Linked DNA regions of Homo sapiens. The protein of the gene in region 1 purifies or fractionates together with the protein of each later gene. This does not show direct contact. Each region holds a gene or a part of one and is shown in the gene's direction. Other genes may lie near its edges.

Region 1 (2,374 bases):
AACCAGAGATCGCACCACTGCACTCCAGCCTGGGCAACAGAGCAGGACTCTGACTCAGAAAAAAAAAAAAGTAAAAACTACAGTCATTCCCAACAAAGTATATATATATATATATATATATATATATATATATATATATATATATATATATATATATATATTTGCCCAGTCAGAGATAACAACTTTTTTTTTTTTTTGAGGCAGAGTCTCTCTAAGACAGAGTCTTACTCCACCACCCAGGCTAGAGTGCAGTGGTGCAATCTCGGCTCACTGCAGCCTCCACCTCCTGGGTTCAAGTGATTCTCGTGCCCCAGCCTCCTGGGGAGCTGGGATTACAGGTGTGTGGCACCACGCTCGGCTAATTTTTGTATTTTTAGTAGAGATGGGGTTTCACCATGTTGGCCAGACTGGTCTTGAACTCCTGGCCTCAAGTGATCTGCCCGCCTCAGCCTCCCGAAGTGCTGGGATTACAGGCATGAGCCATTGCACCCAGAAAGTTTTTACTTTTCACTTAATGTATTTTTTTTTTCCTTGGGACGGAGTCTTGCTCTGTCGCCCAGGCTGGAGTGCAGTGGCACCATCTTGGCTCACTGCAAGCTCTGTCTCCTGGGTTCACGCCATTCTTCTGCCTCAGCCTCCCGAGTAGCTGGGACTACAGGCACCCGCCACTGCGCCCAGCTAATTTTTTTATATTTTTAGTAGAGACGGGGTTTCACCGTGTTAGTGAGGATGGTCTCGATCTCCTGACCTCGTGATCTGCCCGCCTGGGCCTCCCAAAGTGCTGGGATTACAGGCATGAGTCACCGCGGCCGGCCTCACTTAATGTATTTCTGTGTAGATTCAATTTTTTCAACATGTGGAAAATGTACTTTTGATTTTTTAAAAATGCCAACAGTAGATATATGTACATGCATGATGTATATTTATATTCTTTCTATATATTAAAAAACTTAAAACTGGCCTGGCATGGTGGCTCACTCCTGTAATCCCAGCACTTTGGGAGGCTGAGGCAGGCTGATCACTTGAGGTCTGGAGTTCGAGACCAGCCTGGCCAACATGGCAAAACCCCACCTCTACTAAAAATTTAAAAATTAGCAGCCAGGCATGGTGGCTTACGCCTGTAATCCCAGCACTTTGGGAGACTGAGACAGGTGGATTACATGAGGTCAGGAGTTCAAGACCAGCCTGGCCAACATGGTGAAACCTCTGTCTCTACTAAAAATATGAAAATTAGCTGGGCGTGGTGGCATGCACCAATAATCCCAGCTACTCAGGAGTCTGAGGCAGGAGAATTGCTTGAGCCCAGGAGACAGAGGCTGTAATGAACCCAGATTGCGCCACTGCACTCCAGCCTGGCTGACACAGTGAGACTCTGTCTCCAAAAAAAAAAAAAAAATTACCTGGGCGTGGTGGTGGGCGCCTGTAATCCCAGCTACTCAGGAGGATGAGGCATGAGAATTGCTTGAACCTGGGAGGCAGAGGTTGCAGTGAGCCAAGATCGGGCCATTGCACTCTGGCCTGGGCGACTGAGCGAGACTATTTCTCAAAAAAAAAAATTAAAACTTCAATGAAGATTCCAGTCTAGCCAGGGCTGAGAATCACTAGTATGAGGGAAGGGATATTAACTTTAGAGAAATTGGATTTGGGGCCAGGCGCGGTGGCTCATACCTGTAATCCCAGCACTTTGGGATGCTGAGTCAGGCGGATCACCTGAGGTCAGGAGTTCGACACCAGCGTGGCCAACACGGTGAAACCTCGTCTCTACTAAAAATACAAAAATTAGCCAGGTGTGGTGGCACATGCCTGTAGTCCCAGCGACTCAGGAGGCTGAGGCAGGAGGATCACTTGAACCCTGGAGGCAGAGATTGCAGTGAGCCAAGATTGCCTCACTGCACTCCAGCCTGGGTGACAGAGTGAGACTCTGTCTAAAAAAAAAAAAAAAAGCTGGATTTGAGTCCCAGGTCTGCCATTAAGTGACCTTGGGCATCTCACAACTTTTAGTTTCCTTACCTGTATCATGTAAAAATTAATGCCTATGGGCCAGGCGCGGTGGCGCATGCCTGTAATCCCAGCTACTCAAGAGGCTGAGGCAGGAGAATCACTTGAACCCGGGAAGTGGAGGTTGCAGTGAGCCGAGATCACACCATTGCACTCTAGCCTGGGCAACAAGAGCAAAACTCTGTCTCAAAATAAATAAATAAATAAATAAAATAACACCTATGCCACATAGTTACTGTAATGATTAAATGATATTATGTACTTAATACATACTAGGTTCTAAATTACCCTTTTAAGGATTTTACAGTCTTCTAACAGTGGGGCAGAGGTTCCAGGTGAAGAAACAGTCTTGGGCCAGGCGTGGTGGCTCACACCT
Region 2 (3,500 bases), on another chromosome or scaffold:
AGGCCCAGGGGTTCCACCTCGTAATTTTTGTTTGTTTTTAAATAAGGAAAATGCAAAAAGCGAGGCGACGGCTTAAAGATGGAGAACGACCCCCAGGAGGTGAGTGCCAGGTACACAGTGGGTAGCAGTGGCTCAGGGCCCCGGGGTGCGTGAGCCGGTGCCCAGCGCTTCACACGCTTTTGACCCCAACCACCCCAGTTATGCTGTGGCCACGGGGGCCGCTGGCCTTCCCAACTGCTCTGAAAACCCCACACTGCCATGGCTGTATCTGGGGGTGGCCGGCTCACCTGCACTCGACAGACATCACGTTGGACTGACCCCTATTTGCATTTGAGTGACCTGAGAGGTATTTAAGTGAACTCGCCAAACTTTTATCCCAGTCTCGGTGGGCTCGGCCCTTCAAAGCACAGGACACATCTCGCAGCGCCATGGGCGTGAGTTTCGCTCACCGGAGCCACCTGGGGCCAACCCAACCTGAGCCCGACACACCCAGGGCCTCGCACTCTCCGTGCGGTGCCTCCCACTCCCTTTAGAGCATGGGGTGGAGTGACTCTGCCCACAGCACTGCAGCTAACCCTGTTTGTGGGCACTGGAACCTTCCGGAACGCACATCTAGCTGAGGGCAGCTGGTAGTCCAGCACCCACTTCTATTTTCGAGTGGTGGTTTGGTTATCCGTGAGGCCTGGGGCGGACACTGCTGTGATCAGTGGGAGGTCCTGGGTAGGAGGCTTGTTCAGGGAGCCATCAGCGAGGCTGGTGTTGACCGTCAGACCCTTTGGGGCAAACCTATGTTTAGCTATCCCATCTCTTCAGCATATCGTTTCCAAATGGAAATGGCTGTTATCTTTTCAGATTAGAAGACTATCCAGCCTTTTCTAAAACTGTGGGCCACACGGGTGGGGCCCAGCCTGGGCCAGTCTCACACCTGTTCCCTCCTGTCCCCAGGCGGAGTCTGAAATGGCCCTGGATGCTGAGTTCCTGGACGTGTACAAGAACTGCAACGGGGTGGTCATGATGTTCGACATTACCAAGCAGTGGTAAGAGGGAGCTGGCGGGGGCAGCTGCCTGTGACTCTCACCCCCCTAGCCCCTTGGGCGCCCTCTTTGTGCAGCAGATAATGGTTAGAGCAGCATCGTTCTGCAGGACCGAGGGACTCTTGCTGGGCAGCTGTGGCAGCTCAGCCACAAGGGGCACTGGCCTGGATGTCGGGCTGGGCAACGACTATGCCTGTGCCTATGGGGCGGGATGGCGTGGGCCGGCTGCAAAAGGCATCTGGGGCAAGGCACGCACCTTCCATAGCCCCACTGTTCTTCCTGAAAACCCATCTGAGACTTGGCGGAAGCAAGTGGCTGCTTGTGCTGGGGGCTCCCCGCGACCTCCGTCTTCATGACCTAGGAGGACCCACAGCCAAGATTCATTCTAGCAAGAAGATGACAGCGAAATCAGCTAAGGGCAGTGGCACACAGGACGATCTCTGGGGGACCAGGCGCAAGCCCCCAGAGTCCACTGTGGAGTCGCATGGGATCCACTCAGCTCCTCAGGAGTGCAGTGTCCCCCAGGACGCACCGGAGCCCCAGCGGGGGGGTGCTGCGGACGCACACTTGGCACAAGGCTCCTAGAAGAACGAGGGCCGCGTGAAGACCAGTGTCCTGGTGCAGGGCCCCTCCTAGCCACAGCCAGTGCCCGGAGCACCAGGAGCAGCATGCCCGACACGTCCAGGCATCTGCTCTTCCCAGCAGTGGGTCTGGCCTGGGGGCCTAGTCAGCAGCTTCTCTTACTTGGGAAGACCCCCACACCAGGGTTAAGCGTACCGCCTGTCACGGGGCCGCACACTCAGCACGCATCAGCAGCCCAGGCCTGAGGGCGGCTTGAAGCACCTGACCAGCCATGCTCTGGGCCTCTGCCAACCTTTGCCAATGCTGGGAACCATGCCTGCCCTCCCAGCCTTCAGCACCACCACCAAGGACTGACCGCAGGCACCCTCAGGAGAGCCCTCGGTGGGGGTGTGGCACACGGATGGCAGGAGAACCACACACGGGGCTGGCGGCCCCACCCCAGGGCACGAGTTCAGCTCGGGCGCACACGCTGGCCTCACCTGGGCGAGCAGTGGTGCTCCTCTCCCTCCGGCCTCTCCTGTCTAGGCAGCAGGCCAGCCTGGTGGGTGGGAAGTGGCTTTTCCCAAGCGAAGTTGAGTGTGGACACAGTGTGGCCTCCACGGCACCTCCCACTGCTGCCACAGGAACGGCCTGGAGGGAGCTGCAGCCGCCTGGGCTGCCGTGCGAGGAGTGGGCGGGAGTGACAGCGAGACTTGAGCCAGCCTGAGAAGACGCGGCAAAGGCGCTTACCTGTGGGCCCGGAGACCCTGTTGGCAGCACCAGCCTGGGCAGGCGATGCCTATGGTAGCAATGCTCTGTCTGGAGCCCCTGGTGCCCAGCAGGAAGGATGGAAAACACTGGCTCAGACAGCGGCTTCAAGCACCACGCAGGCCCTTCACAGCCACGAGAGGCAGGAGACACCAGAAGGCCACCTGCTTAGGAGGCCAGAGGTGCCCCTGGGCCGGCCTTGGTGAGGGGCCCGTTTAAATGACTGCGTGTAAATGAAAGAAAATGAAGTTAGAAACAGGATGTTGCATTTTTTACTCCCTTATGTTGGCTTTCAGTCGTGGGGAAGTTTTGTCACTTGAAGCGCTGGTTATTTCTTCACAAGCCATTTGGAAAACCACGCAGCTGGGAAACTGGCAGTTCCACGCCAGGCAGACTCTGGAGACTTGCCGTCCGTGCCAGGAGATGTCTGCTTAAGACAAGGCTCTCCAAACAGCCCGCTTCACCGGCAGCCGCAGAGGCACCCCAGGGTGTCCTCGGCTGCCCCGGTGGGCAGGGAGCCTGGAGGACCAGCCACAGGGTCGACACCAAGGGGCACAGAGGACAGTGCGGAATGAGGGTGGACACAGATGAAGCCAGAGGTGGTTTTGTAGGGATGCGGACATGGGGTGCTCTGAGGGAAGGCAGGGACAGGCAGGGGCGTTCCAGTGTGGGGTGCGGTCAAGTACCTGCCGTCAGGGAGAGGGACGGGCGGGGGCTGCAGGCTGAGGGGTGCGAAGGCCCTCGAGGCACTTCCCTCTAGCTCTGCATGCACGAGGCATGCTTCTGCTGGGTTGGATGTTGGAAATGAGAAGCAGCCACCATCCTCGGGCCTGGGCGCACAGCACCTTTCCAGGGAGGGACAGGGCGTCGCAGGGCTGAAACTAAGCCAGGTCCTCACCTGTTCTCCGAGGACCTTCAATTACATTCTCCGGGAGCTTCCAAAAGTGCCCACCCACGTGCCAGTGTGCGTGCTGGGAAACTACCGGGACATGGGCGAGCACCGAGTCATCCTGCCGGACGACGTGCGTGACTTCATCGACAACCTGGACAGGTGGGTGCGGTGGCCCTGCTCCCGAGGGACCCTGCCCGGTGCTCCGGTGTGCGGGGGAGGGTGCTGAGGCAGAGGCCCAGGGAGGG
Region 3 (3,500 bases), on another chromosome or scaffold:
ATGGATGTAGCACCTTGTAAGTGCCATAGCACTAAGTAGTACAATGTAAAATAAGTTCACAACTCCTGTTTGCTGTGCTGTCTGCATGTTGTCCTGATAGGCTGATCATAGGCCCTGCCGTGCCTTGTCTTAAGGTTTTGATCTCTGGCTGTGCCTTCTTACAGTCAATATAAGATCCAAGTATTTGAAATAATCAAGGGTCAAAAAGCCCTTGGGTGCTAGAAAATACAGAAATACAAATTAATGGCCAGGCCTGGTGGCTCGTGGCTGTAAACCTAGCACTTTTGGAGGCCAAGGCGGGAGGATTACTTGAGGCCAAGGGTTCGAGACGAGCTTGGACAATATAGTGAGACCCCCATCTCCATAGGAAAATTAAAATTAAAGATGGGCATGGTGGTGTGCACCCTGTAGTCCCAGCTAGGCAGGAGGCTGAAGCAGGAGAATTGCTTGAGCCCCAGGAGTTCAAAGTTGCAGTGAGTTACGGTAGCAACACTGTACTCCAACCTGGGCAACAGTGTGATCATGTCTCCAAAAAAAAAAATTATTTTTTAAAAAAAGGAATTGGCCAGGTGTGGTGGCTCACACCTGTAATCCCAGCACTTTGGGAGGCCTAGGCGGGCGGATCATGAAGTCAAGAGATCAAGACCATCCTGGCCAACATGGTGAAACCCCGTCTCCACTAAAAATACAAAAATTAGCTGGGCGTGCTGGTGCATACCTGTAGTCCCAGCTACTTGGGAGGCCGAGGCAGGAGAATCGCTTGAATCCGGGGGGCGGAGGTTGCAGTGAGCCGAGATCGCGCCACTGCATTCCAGCCTGGCAACAGAGCGAGACTCTGTCTCAAAAAACAAAACAACAACAACAAAAGTATTAAATCATTTCCTCCATACCCTTCCCTGAGACCTGAGTAGCTTCTCACTACAAAATAGATATAAACTCTTTTCATATGCTGCTGCACTACTCATCCTTTTATCTTCTCAGACATCTTATTAATTTGCTTCTGACATTAAAAGCACACCAATATAAGTTGGTATGAGACCAAGACTGAGGGTATTGTGACTTCTCCTTTTTTTTTTTTTTGAGATGGGGTTTCACTCTTGTTGCCCAAGCTGGAGTGCAATGGCGCAATCTCAGCTCACTGCAACCTCTGCCTCCCGGGTTCAAGTGATTCTCCTGCCCCAGCCTCCTGAGTAGCTGGGATTATAGGTGTGGGGTACCATGCCTGACTAATTTTTTGTATTTTTAGTAGAAACGGGGTTGCACCATGTTAGCCAGGCTGGTCTCGAACTCCTGACCTCAGGTGATCCGCCTGCCTCAGCCTCCCAAAGTGCTGAGATTATAGGTATGAGCCACTGCGCCCGGCCAAGTGACTTTTCATATGCTATTCTTTTAGCACTATCCTGAGGAGCGACATGTGGTTGAACGCCATGGACGGGACACAAGCGGACCAAGGAAAGAGTGGCATGGTCCACCCTCTCAAGGGCCTAGCTATCATGATACGAGGCGAATGGGTGACGGCCGGGCAGGAGCAGGCATGATAACCCAACATTCAAGGTAAATAACTAACCAGTTTTTCTGCCAGCACACAACCAACACTTTATCCTTTCCATAAAAGTCATTATAGTTTCTGAGAGACTGAATTGCAACTACTGAAAACCCTAGATCTGCCTGAACATTTCCCTGTATCAACCCGTAGTCTCCAAAAGAGTGTTTGCAGAACAGCTGATATTAATGTGTTAGTTTGTATTCTTCCTTTTAAATGAATTCAGTGACGTTCTGGCAAGTTGATATAGATATGGGTATGTACGTATGGCAGGATCCAGTAAACAATGAATTCTTTTGTTTTGTTTTGTTTTTTGTTTTTTGAGATGGAGTCTCACTCTGTCGCCCATGCTGGACTGCAGTGGCGAGGTCTTGGCTCACTGCAACCTCCGCCTCCTGGGTTCAAGCAATTCTCTCATCTCAGCCTCCCAAGTAGCTGGGATTACAGGCATGTGCCACCATGCCCAGCTAATTTTTATATTTTTAGTAGAGACAGGGTTTCACCATGTTGCCCAGGCAGGTCTCGAACTCCTGACCTCAGGGGATCCGCCTGCCTTGGCCTCCCAAAGTGCTGAGATTACAGGCGGGAGCCACTGCACTCAGTCTAGATAATGAATCTTAACCTCACATTGGAACCATCATCTTGTTCTCTACCTAGCATTCCTCAAATTCTTAGGAAGAAAATACTGAAAGTGTGTTCTGTTTCCTCCCTTTTAAAATAACTCTTGGGAAGGCTTTTAGACATTTAACACAAAATCTCTTCATACGTTAAGAGGCGAGCTTTACTTTCTCTTCACACTGAGGTCGGATGTGGCCCTTCAGCCAGCAGGTCTTCAGCTTCCCCATCTCTTTCATGTCCTCCTTTCTTTCCCATTCCTCTTTCTTAGGAGAGTTATTGGCTTGACTCAGTGACCCAGGTCACTACTATTCCATGGTCACTTCTACCATCAAACTTCAGTAAGTGTGCTACTTCTGCCTGCACAAGCTCAACATTCATTGTATCTGGTTTGTAAAGGTCACCGATGACTTTTCTCTTGATAAATATAGATTCTTTTATTTTCATGGTTGTCAGACTCCTTGGTGGTTAAACACTGTTTCACACGGTCACTTATCTTTATTTTGAGGGAGTCTGTTTTCTAGGGCACCATCATTTTCTTTCTGCCTTTGTGACTGCCTTTGCAGGCTCCTTCCCGTGGCTAAGCTTTAGACACTGCTGTTTCCTTTCAGCTTCATGTTGCCACTGCCATGTAAGTGCTTTGCTGTTTCCATGAATTCAAGGTCACAGTCAAACTCATTCCTCTCCTTTTTCAAACCTTTGTGTCCCTTTTGTTGCCTCCAGTTTCTTTCAATTTGATAGTGCCACCATCCATTTCATTCACCCTGACTGGAAATACGGGGCTTGTCCTTACCTTTCTTCATTCCTAGTATAAATTTCTAAGTGTGGTTTTTTTTTTTTGAGACAGAGTCTTGCTCTGTCCAGGCTGGAGTGTAGTGGTGCAGTCTCGGCTCGCTGCAACCTCTGCCTCCTGGGTTCAAGTGAATAGCTGGGAATACAGGCGTGCACCACCACGCCCAGCTAATTTTTGTATTTTTAGCAAATGGGGTTTCACCATGTTGGCCAGGCTGGTCTTGAACTCCTGACCTTGTGATCTGCCCACCTCAGCCTTCTAAAGTGCTAGGATTACAGGCATGAGCCACTGCGCCCGGCCGTGTGGCTCTATTTTTTTTTAAATGTTTCTCAGGCTGGGCACAGTGGCTCATGCCTGTAATCCCAGTACTTTGGGAGGCCAAGGTAGGTAGATCACTTGAACTGAGGAGTTTGAGACCAGCCTGGGCAACATGGTAAAACCCTGTCTCTACAAAAAGAAAGTTTATCATAGCTATCCCTTATTCCTCATTTTAGCTTCTATCTGATCTTCCCAATTATTGTGTTCCATTACCCCATTTGTAAATTGAAC
Region 4 (2,738 bases), on another chromosome or scaffold:
CTGAGCATGTGGACCAGGACACTGGCAATGGTAACTGAGCAAGGGAGGCAGATGCCCTTCTGGGGAAACCTGTGAATGAGTAAAAGAGAGAGTAAAAGAATGAGTAAAAGAGAAAAAGAAGGGACTATGGTTTGGTGCACCTTTGACCTTACATATACACCTTCCTTAGCAAGATGAGGCCCCAGGTTGCTGAAATAGTTGGAGAGTTTAACACTATCACAGCCTCTGCTGCCTAGGACTTCTAATAATGATTGGTCTGATGGGGTATTAGGATTAGCTAGCTAAGGAATGGGGATGGGAAGATGTCTTTTCTGCAGTGGGACATGCTGAGCTGAGTTGTATGTCCCTCCCCACTTCCACAGGCACATCTAACATGTCATTTGAGGAGCTGTTGGAATTGCAGAGCCAAGTGGGGACTAAGACGTACAAACAATTGGTAGCTGGAAATAGTCCTAAGAAACAAGCTTCTAGACCACCTATCCAAAATGCATGTGTTGCAGATAAGCACAGGTAAGCAAGGCTTGCCCTAGAAGTTGGAAGATAACTGGGACCTTGAATAGGTATGTTGTCTTGGGTGACAGGTGGGAAGCCTTTGACCAACACTGGAGTCCTCTTGACTTGGCTTTTAATTTCTCCATAGGCCTCTGGAAATGTCAGCCAAGATCCGAGTACCATTTTTACGTCAGGTTGTTCCCATTAGTAAAAAGGTAAGGAAGAAGGCCAGGCACTGTGGCTCACGCCTGTAATCCCAGCACTTTGGGAGCCCGAGGTGGGCGATCACCTGAGATCAGGAGTTCCAAGACCAGCATGGCCAACATGGTGAAACCCTGTCTCTACTAAAAATACAAAAATTAGCTGGGCATGGTGGTGTGTGCCTGTAGTCCCAGCTGCTTGGAAAACTGAGGCACAAGAATCGCTTGAACCTGGGAGGTGAAGGTTGCAGTGAGCCAGGATCATGCCACTGCCCTACAGCCTGTGGGACAGAGTAAGACTCTGTCTCAAAAAAAAAAAAAAAAAAAAAAATAGAGGCCGGGCGCAGTGGCTCATGTCTGTAATCCCAGCACTTTGGAAGGCCAAGGTGGGCGAATCACGAGGTCAGGAGATTGAGACCATCCTAGCTAACACAGTGAAACCCCGTCTCTACTAAAAATACAAAAAAAAATAGCCGGGCGTGGTGGCGGGTGCCTGTAGTCCTAGCTACTCAGGAGGCTGAGGCAGGAGAATGGTGTGAACTTGGGAGGCACAGCTTGCAGTGAGCCGAGATTGCACCACTGCACTCCAGCCTGGGCGACAGAGCGAGACTGTGTCTCAAAAAGCAAAAAAAAAGAAAGATGAGGAAGAGACAGGAAGCACTTTTTCTCAGTGAAAGGAGATTGAACAGTTGTGTTTTATATTCTCTCTCTTCTCTCCAAAGGTAGCCCGGGACCCTCGCTTTGATGATCTGTCAGGGGAATATAATCCTGAGGTGTTTGACAAAACATACCAATTCTTGAATGACATCCGAGCGAAAGAGAAAGAGGTATACAGCTTGAGACTGGTTTATGGGGAATTTTGTGGGGTGGAAAATGAGGGCACAGGTTAGAGAGTTGGGCAGGGGGAGTGGGAAGTATAGTGGTGGGCAGATTTAACTCTCTCCAATTCAGTTCATATTCAAATCCTGGCTCATCAGTTTACTAGCTGTGTGATTATTGGCATGTTACTTAATCTCTCTATGCTTTAGTTTTCTAATCATAAAAAAATAAAATAATAATTACTGTCTTGGAGGCCGGGTGTGGTGGCTCACGCCTGTAAGTAATCCCAGCACTTGGGGAGACTGAGGTGAGCACATCATTTGAGGCCAGCAGTTCCAAGACCAGCCTGGCCAACATGGTGAAACCCCATCTCTACTAAAAATAGAAAAATTAGCCAAGTGTGGTGTTGCATGCCTATAGTCCCAGCTACTCAAGAGGCTGAGGCATGGGAATTGCTGGTGCCCTGGAGACAAAGGTTGCAGTGAGACAAGATCGTGTCACTGCACTCCAACCTGGGCAGCAGGGCAAGACTGTCTCCAAACAAACAGTTACTGTCTTGGTGTTATCAAGTTAATATATGTGAACTTCTGGCCGGGTGCGGTGGCTCATGCCTGTTATCCCACCACTTTGGGAGGCCGAGGCAGGTGGATCACGAGGTCAGGAGATTGGGACCATCCTGGCCAACATGGTGAAATTAGTCTCTACTAAAATACAAAAGGAGGAGATCAAGATCATCCTGGCCAACATGGTGAAATTTAGTCTCTACTAAAATAAAAAAAAAAATTAGCCGGGCGTGGTGGCACGTGCCTGTAGTCCCAGCTACTTGGGAGGCTGAGGCAGGGGAATTGCTTGAACCCAGGAGGCGGAGGTTGCAGTGAGCCAAGATCACACCACTGCACTCAAGCCTGTGACAGAGCAAGACTGCATCTCAAAAAAAAATGTGTGTGTGTGTATGTGTGTGAACTTCTTAGGATAATGCTTTACATAAAATTTCAGCTAACATTTGCAGAATGCTAACCATGATACTCATTTTCCAATGTGGAGCTTGTGAAAAAACAGTTGAAGAAGCACCTTTCAGGAGAGGAGCATGAGAAACTGCAGCAACTGCTTCAGCGAATGGTGAGTGGGTAATAATTGTGGTGGGTAATGAAAGCAATTAAAGGTGGGAGATATTCACAGATCTGAACAGATCCCTCCCGTTCACCCATCTCATCTTTGCTCCTCAGG
Region 5 (3,500 bases), on another chromosome or scaffold:
TCAGTAAAGGGACAGCATATAAGAAGTGTTTTTAACAATAAATTGCATTCCTTATTGCTAACACTGGCCAATTAAGGAAAAAATCTAATTATACTAGAAACAAAACCACATAAAGTTCTTGGAAATTACCTTAATAAACACAAATGACCTATGTGAAGTAAACTGTAACACTTGATAAATTTGAAAAACTTACATAAATTTTGAGGATACCATATTTCAAGCCAACCTAATAATTAAGAATCCAGGCTTTGCATTATTGCAGACCTGGGTTCAAATCTTGATTCTCGTAAGTGTTATGTGATCCTGGACACTTAATTAATCTCTCAAGTATGTTTACATCTTTCCAATATATCCAAATGGATATAACAATAGTATTGGTGATTGTAAGGATTAAGTATAAAGGAGCTTGAACTAAGTATTTAGTGCAGTGCCTGAAATAGCCCTGCCCTCAATCATTATTAGAGATTGAGTCTCCCTTATCCAAAATGCTTGGGATCAGAAGTGTTTAGAATTTCAGATTTTGAAATAAAATTGCATTATATATACTTACTGGATGAGCATCGCAATTCCAAAATCTGAAATGCGCCAATGAGCGTTTCCTTTGAACCTCACGTTGACAGTCAAAAAGTTTGGAATTTTGGATTTGGGATTTGGGATGCTCAACCTGTATTATTCTGTTTAAATATTTAAAGATGTTATGTCTACTGTTCTAGGGTAATTTTGATCAAAATCCCAGTTCAAGTCAAAGTTAAGAAAAAGGATACCAATAATCATCTAAAAGAATAAACAAATTAAGAGTAGCTAATAAACTATTTTTTTTTTTTTGAGATGGAGTCTCGCTCTGTCGCCCAGGCTGGAGTGCAGTGGCGCAATCTCGGCTCACTGCAAGCTCCGCCTCCCGGGTTCACGCCATTCTCCTGCCTCAGCCTCCTGAGTAGCTGGGACTACAGGCGCCCACCACCACGCCCGGCTAATTTTTTGTATTTTTAGTAGAGACGGGTTTTCACTGTGTTAGCCAGGATGGTCTCGATCTCCTGACCTCATGATCCGCCCGCCTCGGCCTCCCAAAGTGCTGGGATTACAGGTGTGAGCCACCGCGCCTGGCCTAGACTAGCTAATAAACTTTTGAGAAATCATGCTAATATAAAAACTCACCCTGTCGCTTCTCGGCCTTTTGGCTAAGATCAAGTGTAAAAACTCACCCTACAAGTTACAATATCTAAACATTTCATGATGCTATGGGGGTTGACAGGTTTGGGTAAAAATGGGACAAATTGGTAGAACAGAATAGATAGAAAGAGTTCATATGATAACTTAGATCAAAATAGGCTGCTTGAATATTTGGACAAATGAACAGGTCATTGGATAGAGAACTTGGTTCAGATCTTCACCTCCTAATAGCTCCAGCGAAATTCTAGATGAAGCAAAGGAAAAAAAAATTAAAAGTCAAGCCAAAGAAACAATTTAAAAACCCTGTGTTTTAGGCAATAGTGAGAATTTCTAGACTTAGAAAAGAGGAAAAAAAAGAATCAAAAGATGTGACTACATATATATTATAAACTTACATATTAAACCTATTGTGTATATACTATTCAAGTTAGTAAGAAAAACTTGGATCATCTTGTTGATAAATTGCATATTTCAGACAGTTTAAAAAAGCATGTGTTCATTAACAAATGTATATTAAGCCTAGTAGTATCAAAACAATGTCATTAATACAATTATTTCTTGACTCTTAAAGTAGGCAAGATTTTAGAAGATACCACACCTGGTGAGAGTGAATTCTTTTTCTTATATCGAGACTATACCTAATCTGTATAAGGTTGTCGTCAGTTCTGTTCTATTTCTTTAAAAGAAAGCACTGGATAAATGGTATGACAGAGATAAGTTGGTTATTACAAAATTGATCTTCATTATATGTTTATTTTTCTGTATTTCATGTAAACTAATTCAGTCATTTTTCATGTGTGTGTTTTTATTCACATTTCCTTGAGCTTAGCATCTTGTTTTGCTTTTAATTTTTCGTTTGGATCTCGGAACCATCTTGTCCCAGGTGGTATGTGGAGGAGATACTCTTATTTTTGTTTCCAAGCCTCGTATCTTGTTAGTCTCTAGCCAAAGTGATCTATTTTTAAATAAAATTTCTCAAGATGCTCTAGCTTCCTATAGTGGATTTGGAAGTGAGTCACCCTTACTGTTTTCATTGAGTCAAGTTGTGACTTTTAGAGTTCCTGACTTCGACAGGTCTAGATATTTGTGTAAAGGAATGTACAAATTACATTGATCCTATTTTTTTCTGTTTAGATATATCCTTCAGAATTTGGAAAGGAGAGGATGAAGGAAGAGCAAGTTCAAGGACCAGTAGAGCTATTAAGTATTCCTGAAGATGCCCCAGAAAAAGACTGGTATTAAATCACTATAGAACATAAAACTAAACCTCATAAATTCATGTCATTAGTTCAGAATTCTGGTCACCTTAATAGTTAAAACTAAAGTTTATACTTGTGCCATTCGTGGTTAAAACAGGTTGCAAAACAGATTTAAAGTCTGTTAAAAGTGGTACATTATTCCAAGAAGATTTTTGTTCGTGTATATTTCTATTTCTGTATTCATGAAAGTAATTATTGCAGTTTTTGAAAAACATTTCATGATTAAACTGATTTGGAGTTCTTTTGAATTCTTTCAGCCTCGTTGCTCTGAATTAGTACGTTTTGCTTTTTTTTTTGAGACATCATTGAAGCTCTGTTTGCCTTCAAATTATATAATTTTTTCTTATTTGAGAATCAAATAGAAAAGTGAAAGAATGATAAAACTTTTTTTTTTATCATCATGGTGCAATATAGAAAATAATTTAAGATAGTTTTTAAGCCACTAGGTGGAGCTATATTTGCACTTAATAAAAATGAGGGTTAAATAGATTAGTGACAGGAGAGAGCAGATGAAGACCTTCAAAGAAAGAGTTGTATCAGTGCTTTGTGTGGAACCTTAAAAAAAAAAAAAAAAAAAAGAATGTGTTGTAGTTAAGCAAAATCAAACTTATAGACTCTTAAGCAAACATTTTGCAAGATCAGGAATGTCTTTTAGCTAATGGTTTTCTAGCATATTTTATAATAGAATTATCTTTATTGGTTTTACTTGAGAAGGCAGTGTGTAATAGCAAAGTAACTATTCTGTGAGTTAAATTATAGATAAACACACGAATTCCCACACACTCCTTTCCTAGATACCAAATTCCAATCCAAATATCTGTACCTTGTGAGAATAATAAGTTGAGCTTAAGTATTTAATGTTTATAAAGGCAAAGTCATGAAGGAAAGATGGTTTGGTATGAAGGCCAGCTTGTAATATGTTTTTCTTGAAAGAATTACATTTATTTTTTAAAGGGAAATTTTTGTGTTTCTGTATAAGTATGCTTAATAAGTTTTTCCCACTTTAGGACGTCTAGAGAAAAATTGAGAGATTATCAATTCAAACGACTGAAGTACTATTATGCAGTAGTA
Region 6 (3,500 bases), about 120 Mb from region 1:
GGATTGTCTTGAATTTTAGTTGAACAGTTTGATGTCGCAACTCACCTGCAAACAGCCCCGGAGCTAGTCGACAGAGTCTTTAATAGGCCCAGGATAGAGACCTTGCAGAAAGAAAAAGTGAAAGGAGTTACCAATCAGACTGGACTTAAGGTAATTTTCTCTGTTGTTCTTCACATGTGAGCTTAGGGGAATCTAGGTGTTTTTTTTTTGTTTTTTTTTTTTTGCTACTGCATTTAAAATAATTTTTAAAATTTATTTTATTTTATTTTTTAGTCAGAGTCTCACTGTCTCCCAGGCTGGAGTGCAGTGGCACGATCTCGGCTCACTGCAACCTCCGCCTCCTGGGTTCAAGCAATTCTCATGCCTCAGCCTCCCCAGTAACTGGGACTATAGGGGTGCAACACCACACCCAGCTTATTTCTGTATTTTTCATAGAGATGGGGTTTCGCCATGTTGGCCAGGCTGGTCTTGAACTCCTGACCTCAGTTGATCTGCCTGCCTTGGCCTCCCAAAGTGTCGGGATTACAAGCGTGAGCCACTGTGCCTGGCCTAAAATAATTATTTATTTATGGAAAACTCATGAGTTCCCTTAGAAAAGTGGATTTGTAGGATGATTTGATGATGGGATGGAAGTGGAGAAGGGCTTCCTAATTTCTATGATCGGAGGAGGTATAGTGGTCAGAAGCTTAGGTTCTGGCCTTTAGACCTGGGTTTGAATCCCAATTCTGACCCTGCGCTTTGTGCTTTTAATACTTGTAACAGATGCCAGTGTTTTGAAAATGCAGAGAAAGGGATTGCTGAAGATTAAAGGATTTGCAATACTTTAATATTGAACCTTTAGCAGTGAATACGCACATCAAAAGGTCTTTCTGTGTTTTTATTTTTCTTGAGACAGGGTCTCACTGTCACCCAGGCTGGAGTGCAATGGTGTGATTATGGCTCACTGCAGTCTCCACCTTCTGGGCTTAAGCGATCCTCCTGCCTCAGCCTCCTGGGTAGCTGGGACCACAGGTGTGTGCCACCATGCCTAGCTAATTTTAAATTTTTTTTGTAGAAACGGGGTCTCGCTAAGTTGCCCAGGCTGGTCTTAAACTCCTGAGCTCAAGTGTTTACTCCCGCCTTGGCCTCCTGAAGTGTTGGGATTACAGGCGTGAGCCACCATGCCTGCCCAAAAGGTCTTTCATATTGTGTATTGTAACAAAAATTTTGTTTTGGCTTTTCCTTATGGTGCTTTCCGTCACTGTAACTGGGTTGTGCAGAAGACATGCTTTTCCTGAAAGCCTTCTGGAGTTGAACTCTTCTGACTGATTCATTAAAAAAAAATGCTGTCAATGTGTTTCAAGCAGACAGCTGTTCTGTTTTGATTTGAATCATTTACACTGCATCAGTTTTGCTTCCAATGTTTAATTTCACAGCAGTTTTCTCTAGCTCAGAGGCAGCTAAACTTGCTTTAGTAATATAAATACCCCTAATTAGTTTGACTATATTGGGTAATCCCATAAATCTGACAGTCTGTGCAATAAAGCGAAAACAAAAGCTGTCTGAAACCACTGCTGTGAGACTGTGCTAGAATCTGTGAATTGTTGAAGTCTAAGGCCCAGTAATATTTCCTTCTGTAGATAACACTTCCAGCCAAAGAGCTTGCTCATGAGTGTTCTTGTGATAACCCTGTTGTTTGTCAATTAGGTGTACTTTTTTTTTTTTTTGAGACGGAGTCTCACTCTGTCACCCAGGCTGGAGTGCGGTGGCGTGATATCGGCTCACTGCAACCTCTGCCTCCTGGGTTCAAGCAATTCTCTTGCCTCAGCCTCCCGAGTAGCTGGGATTACAGGTGCCCGCCACCACGCCTGGCTAATTTTTTGTATATTTAGTAGAGACAGGGTTTCACCATTTTGGCTAGGCTGGTCTTGAACTCCTGACCTTGTGATCCACCCACCTCAGCCTCCCAAAGTGCAGGGATTACAGGCGTGAGCTACCGCGCCCGGCAATTAGGTGTACTTTCAATTAGCCGTGTCACTGACGCTTCTCAAGAATTGTGGTAGTCCCTAAAGAGATTAGTATTCCAAATTCCCATGTAGAATAGTTCACCAGCATAGCTTTTGAGAAGTTAGGGAGGTTTAGATTTTTGCCATTTTTGTCTAGTAATTATGTTTCTTTCTATTTTGTTTACTGCAAAATCATTTTTATTAAGAGACTGCTGGTGGGTGGATTGCAAGGATATTTTGTCTGTAACTTCGAGTGGGTAGACAACCCATGAGTGAGCTTTAGGAGGTCTGAGAAAACCCCCCTTTCTCACTGGTATTTTGTGCAGATAGGTATATGTGCTTGCACAACCTTTTACAAATGTGTATGTACATTTATCTCAAGAAACATCCCATGCTGGGCGTGGTGGCTCATGCCTGTAGTCCCAGCAATTTGGGAGGCCAAGGCAGGTGGATCACTTGAGGTCAGGAGTTCGAGACTAGCCTGGCCAATGTAGTGAAACCCTGTCTCTACTAAAAATACAAAAATTAGCCAGGCGTGGTGGCGGGCACCTGTAATCCCAGCTACTAGGGAGGCTGAGGCAGCAGAATTGCTTGAACCCAGGAGGCGGAGGTTGTAGCGAGCCGAGATAGTGCCACTGCACTCCAGCCTGGGCGACAGAGCAAGACTCCGCCTCAGAAAAAAAAAAAAAAGAAGAAAGATCCCAAAGCTTTCATCAGTTTCTCTGAGGTTGATGATTCCCCAAAATGTAAGGACCCCACTGATCTTTGAGGAGTCATTAGCAGTGAGAATTCTCAGGTGAGCTTCTGCTGAAAAAATTCTTCTGCTTTCTGAGTGGTAAGATTTTCAGGCACCAGCACACTGCCTGGGGACCCTTCTGTTGCCGACTCTTCTGTTGCTCTCCATTCACTTTGTATAGGGTTTCCAACACTGATTCATTCCTGCCATCATCTCAGGTGACTGTGGCACTCACACAAAGGTTGAAGCAGCTTAGTGTAGTAGTGGAAAGATTCCTGGGATTTGTGAGAGGGGGACGGTCCTGACTCTGCTCCAGGTGAGCTGTGTGTCCTTGGACCACTTCTTCTCTGGGCCTCATTTTTCTGCGTTTGTAAATGACGGGTTTCGATAAGATAGTCTACAGGGTTCCTTTTTTAATTTTTAATTTTTTTTTTTTGAGACAGAGTCTCATTATGTTGCCTACGTTGGTCTGGAACTCCTGGGCTCAAGTGACCCTCCCTCCTCAGCCTCCCAAAGTGCTGGGATTACTGGCGTGAGCCACTGCGTCTGGCCCAGGGTTCCTTTCAGCTCCAGAATGTGATGTTCCTAAAATGGGCAACGTTATTGTTACCACGTTATGTTGATTCTGGTGAAAGAAGGGAGTTGATGAAACTATGCAGTTGGCTTAAATGGATTAAGAAACAGTTTCTTACTCATTTTTGTCCTGTTCATTGTTCACTGAGAATGTGTGTGTTTCTTCTCCAGCGAATAGCTAAAGAAAGGCAAAAGCAGTATAACTG
Region 7 (4,102 bases), on another chromosome or scaffold:
AAGTAAAAATAAATGAGTTGTGAAAATCTGAGAGAAAAAATAGAACAAGTTTCCTTCTGGCCTAGAGCCTAGCACTTTGGGTAAGTCGCTAGACTTCGGTGAGTTATTTTCATGGAGATTTTGTTTTTAACGCCTGATGACCTATTTCATAGAATTTTATCAAAATAAATTTTTAAAGTATAAAAGATTCAATCTATCAATGTGTCAAAGATAAATTCTAAGTCAACAGAATTATAAAAACAGTGATCTCATTAATTGGTAATTTAAGCCAGCTAATGATAGTTGAAAATATCTCACCAGAGCTCAGTTAGGGTCACACTTAGAGTAGGTATATTTCCTGCCATATTCAGTAACAGCTGTGTATGTAGCAAAACCATCAAAAGCCAATTTATGAGTATTATGGGCATATGTGATGGCCCATCCATCTTTTCAATCCACAGGGAGAATATCGTGGATACCATGACTTTCCTCCCACCTTAAATAAAAATATGTGGTTCCCACCTCATTAGAGCTATAGCTAGTCATGAGAGTCTGCCCATGAACTAGGAATGCATGTTTGTGTCTCCTTCCATTATGCAGAGGAAACATGCATGGAACATCACACAGCATCCTGTTGTTCCTTCAGTGAAAACATACAAGCTGGAGATATCCATGGAAAGTCCTCCAGAAAAAGAACAGAAGTGTTTATATCTATTCTAAATCCCTTATGCCTCCCCCAGTGGTCCATCACCACTGCCTAATCTGAGAATTCACTTTCACCTTCATATTTAGACTTTCAGACTTTAAAAGAATCTATCGCCAGTCTTTCTAAAATCCAGACTGTGGCTAGGAATGTTGTCTTAAAATCCATCGCTCACTGCTTCCAATCATAGTGTCAGGTCTAAAATTCATTCCAGACTCCTTAATGGCTCTAAGAACCAACAAATTAATTAATCCTAAATTCCTCACATCAGACTCATTCTGTTGGACCAATTTTATAGGCAGAGGAGTAAGTGGGAATCTGGCTTTGAATTCTGTGATGAATGATGCAACAGCCAAACTGGAGAAACAGTGTTAGAAGCCCTGAATCCCCATCCCCTATCAAATGCCTATAAAGAACCCTAGATCATCCTCTGTTAAATTATTTATGGGTGTCAAGAAATATTTCTAATTATATCCATTCACAGCCACAGTCAGTGAATATTGTGCAAAGAGATTGCCAAAAACGGTTTTGCCAAGTAGGTTCCCAGCTAGGACAGCTGAGGTGGCTGCTGTGTTTGCAGAATGGTCTCTATAAAAGTGGAGCTGAGATGCCTCTTTCCCATCCTTCCTCAAAATTCTTGAAGGTATGTATATGTGGAAGAACACTTACTTTTACATTCCTGATGATGATGATTTTTCATTTAAGGGATGTCTACTGCTTCCCAAATTTTAATTATTCTTTCCAACATTCTTAAGGACGACATTGTAGACAATATAGTTACTAGTATTTTGTGATTAAATGGGGAAAAAAAAGCATCCCACATTCTCTTTTTTCTTTCAACAGTAGTTGTCTGCTTTGAGCCTGCCACCTTCTTCATCTGATAATACAAGAGGTAAGAATAATTTATTATTACACTCTAAAGAACAAAGGAATCTCTATATTGCTACATCTTAATGAGCTACCATTTTATTTCCTAGTTTAGTATTGGGAATAGGATATCGGGGCAGCTGTTCTTTAAAAATGCCTTCTCATAAAATTTTGACTTTTCAGGCCACTTAATCAAACAAAACTTAATGAAACTTCTCTTTCACATGTTGTTAGAACTACAGAAAGAATGCAGCCATCATATGTAATATTTAATGTGAACTACTACTCCAACTTAACCCATAAAGATATATCAGAGAGACCGCATGATAAAATCAAGGTGTGTTTATCTGGAAGTCGATATTTCTAGGTGCCAATCCAGGCTTTTCACTGATTCTATTTGCCTGGGTCAAGCCAGTTAGCCTTTATGTATCTTGAAATACAGTGTGTTGCAAGTGGAATTAACAAACCTGCATTTAGCGGAACAGGACTCATGTCCCAGTACCGCCACTTATCACCCACCACTATGACACTGAATGACCCTGAACCTTTCTAGGCCTTAGTTTCCTCATCAGTAAACGAGGAGGCTGGATTCTATTGACTGCTAAGGTCCTTCCAGCTCTTGCCAACTGTGATTGACGTCAGTGGTTTTCAAGGACTCCTCCACAGAATCAAAACATTTAATGGAACCCTGCTAATGGAGAATCAAAACTAATGGAATCCTGCTAATTGTTCATGTGGAGACATGTACTTTTAGTATGATGTTAAGGATATATATAATCATGAAAACCTATTCTACACTTAAGAATTATTTTAAATGAGTTTATATTTAACATAGCAGCTATATTCATTTAGAAAAGAACAGAAAACACTGTTCATGTGGAAATGTTCCTTCCTTAAACTTGAGGCAATGATCACTGTGTGGGTGGATTCAAGAACCCCCTGCAACAACCTGAGGCTCTATTGGGGCTTGATCCCCAAGTTGGGAAACAATTAATCTATAATAAGACAGGAGATGGGAAGGGTAGCAATCATCTTTCTGTGTTTCCTGGATACACTGCATTATAGTAACCTCCACGTGGTAGTGTGTTGTTAATTCAAGTTGCCTGGTGTAAAAACAAACACAGAAACAAAATATAATGTAATATAAATAACATTTCTTCTTCAAAGAAAAAAAACCTGACATTAAATGTTCCAATATATATCCCCTGAAAATATGTCTAAGTTTCACAGTGTCATCAGGACACTTTTACAGATAAGACTGATTTTGAAAATAGAGTATGTGGAAATTCCATAGCTAACATTTTAAGTTGAGGGAAAGTTAATGCTGATGACAAAAGATCAAGACTCTGGAAAGCCTACAGAAGGTGGTGGCTATTGCTGTTGTCGCCATCATTGCTGTCATTGTCATTGGCAACCAAGACACTTCTGCTCCACAGAGGTCACCTTCTTTTATTCTGGCCACTCACCCTGTCCTTGCCATCAGGACAGCAGGACTTATTTTATTTTCTCATAATTAATTTGTCAGTAGGGAAAATTTTTTAAGTTCATTTTGGCTTGAAACTTTATACTGGCTATCCATTTCAGAAAAATATTTAGAAGACTGGTTGGTATTTTTAAAAAGAGGAGAAGAAAGAACGAGATTATAAACCTAAGAAAATAAGAATCAGATTTTAAAATATGTTAGGTTGAAATCCAACTAAAAACAAAGAGAAATACAGATCAACACATACAATCACTATAAAATTTTATTAAAAATTAAGAAGTTCCTTTTCTCCAAGAATCTTTTAAAGTTGTTTTTGGTTTAGATACTACTTCTGACTTTCAAACAATTTCAAAACTAATAAAGGAGATTTTAATTTTAACTTAGGGCAAAATTATATGTTGGATATTCAGCTTTCATTGTAGTTATTTTTTCCTTTACTTACCTAATACCTGTCAGTTAACTAGGTGTTTATTTGTAATGATTAGATCTGGACTTATGTCCGGAAAGAACAGGTGTATCTGTCTACATTCAATTTTAGTAAATCTGACATCCAATTTTAATAATTTGGGATGAGAGGAAAATTTGCATAAAGATCTGTATTTGAGTTTTTAAGACAGGTTCATTTATATTGTAAAGCCAGTGGAAACAGTTATTGTCCATTTCTTTGTATCATCACGATGTTAAGAGGGGGAAGTTGGAAATAAGAAAGAAAAGAAAAGTAGCAAGAAAAAGAAAAAATTCTGAACATGCTTGGAGCATCACAAATGTTGCTGATTGAATGTTGATTCCTCCACATTTCTCAACTAAGGTTTACAACATAGAGGATGGAACTTAGGCTTAAAGTATCACAAAAATTAAGCTATCAACATAGTGCTTTCAAATCAATGAGCTGATCTCTCAGCTCCTTGACATAGTATACAGGAGTGGTCCCTAAAGGCAGGGGTGAGGAAACAAGCATGGAAAATTAAGCACATTAATATGAAATCAACAGAACAATTCTCCACCCCAACCCTGAATCATCATTTGGCTCTGTTTCTTCCTCTAGGTATACCTAGTCCAGTACTGCCATC

What was found.
Region 2: the proteins of CFAP141 (region 1) and RABL6 purify together in Homo sapiens (affinity purification with mass spectrometry; one large-scale study listed by BioGRID and IntAct). This does not show direct contact.
Region 3: the proteins of CFAP141 (region 1) and SLTM purify together in Homo sapiens (affinity purification with mass spectrometry; one large-scale study listed by BioGRID and IntAct). This does not show direct contact.
Region 4: the proteins of CFAP141 (region 1) and RRP36 purify together in Homo sapiens (affinity purification with mass spectrometry; one large-scale study listed by BioGRID and IntAct). This does not show direct contact.
Region 5: the proteins of CFAP141 (region 1) and ESF1 purify together in Homo sapiens (affinity purification with mass spectrometry; one large-scale study listed by BioGRID and IntAct). This does not show direct contact.
Region 6: the proteins of CFAP141 (region 1) and UTP11 purify together in Homo sapiens (affinity purification with mass spectrometry; one large-scale study listed by BioGRID and IntAct). This does not show direct contact.
Region 7: the proteins of CFAP141 (region 1) and MYH4 purify together in Homo sapiens (affinity purification with mass spectrometry; one large-scale study listed by BioGRID and IntAct). This does not show direct contact.

What each region holds. Positions count from the first base shown.
Region 1 is NC_000001.11:154,200,960-154,203,333, reverse strand, and holds part of CFAP141 (cilia- and flagella-associated protein 141), read left to right. Parts: intron 1-2,374. UniProt on the Homo sapiens protein: Microtubule inner protein (MIP) part of the dynein-decorated doublet microtubules (DMTs) in cilia axoneme, which is required for motile cilia beating.
Region 2 is NC_000009.12:136,828,448-136,831,947, forward strand, and holds part of RABL6 (rab-like protein 6), read left to right. Parts: intron 1-46; coding exon 47-99; intron 100-945; coding exon 946-1,037; intron 1,038-2,509; exon of another isoform or gene 2,510-2,576; intron 2,577-3,273; coding exon 3,274-3,414; intron 3,415-3,500. UniProt on the Homo sapiens protein: May enhance cellular proliferation. May reduce growth inhibitory activity of CDKN2A.
Region 3 is NC_000015.10:58,881,680-58,885,179, reverse strand, and holds part of SLTM (SAFB-like transcription modulator), read left to right. Parts: intron 1-1,393; coding exon 1,394-1,554; intron 1,555-3,500. UniProt on the Homo sapiens protein: When overexpressed, acts as a general inhibitor of transcription that eventually leads to apoptosis.
Region 4 is NC_000006.12:43,024,623-43,027,360, forward strand, and holds part of RRP36 (ribosomal RNA processing protein 36 homolog), read left to right. Parts: intron 1-362; coding exon 363-510; intron 511-640; coding exon 641-707; intron 708-1,414; coding exon 1,415-1,519; intron 1,520-2,507; exon of another isoform or gene 2,508-2,555; coding exon 2,556-2,630; intron 2,631-2,737; coding exon 2,738-2,738. UniProt on the Homo sapiens protein: Involved in the early processing steps of the pre-rRNA in the maturation pathway leading to the 18S rRNA.
Region 5 is NC_000020.11:13,771,420-13,774,919, reverse strand, and holds part of ESF1 (ESF1 homolog), read left to right. Parts: intron 1-2,304; coding exon 2,305-2,405; intron 2,406-3,436; coding exon 3,437-3,500. UniProt on the Homo sapiens protein: May constitute a novel regulatory system for basal transcription. Negatively regulates ABT1.
Region 6 is NC_000001.11:38,019,234-38,022,733, forward strand, and holds part of UTP11 (probable U3 small nucleolar RNA-associated protein 11), read left to right. Parts: intron 1-19; coding exon 20-150; intron 151-3,465; coding exon 3,466-3,500. UniProt on the Homo sapiens protein: Part of the small subunit (SSU) processome, first precursor of the small eukaryotic ribosomal subunit.
Region 7 is NC_000017.11:10,466,760-10,470,861, reverse strand, and holds the start of MYH4 (myosin-4), read left to right. Parts: upstream 1-1,302; 5' UTR 1,303-1,325; intron 1,326-1,525; 5' UTR 1,526-1,574; intron 1,575-3,918; exon of another isoform or gene 3,919-4,077; 5' UTR 4,078-4,102. UniProt on the Homo sapiens protein: Muscle contraction.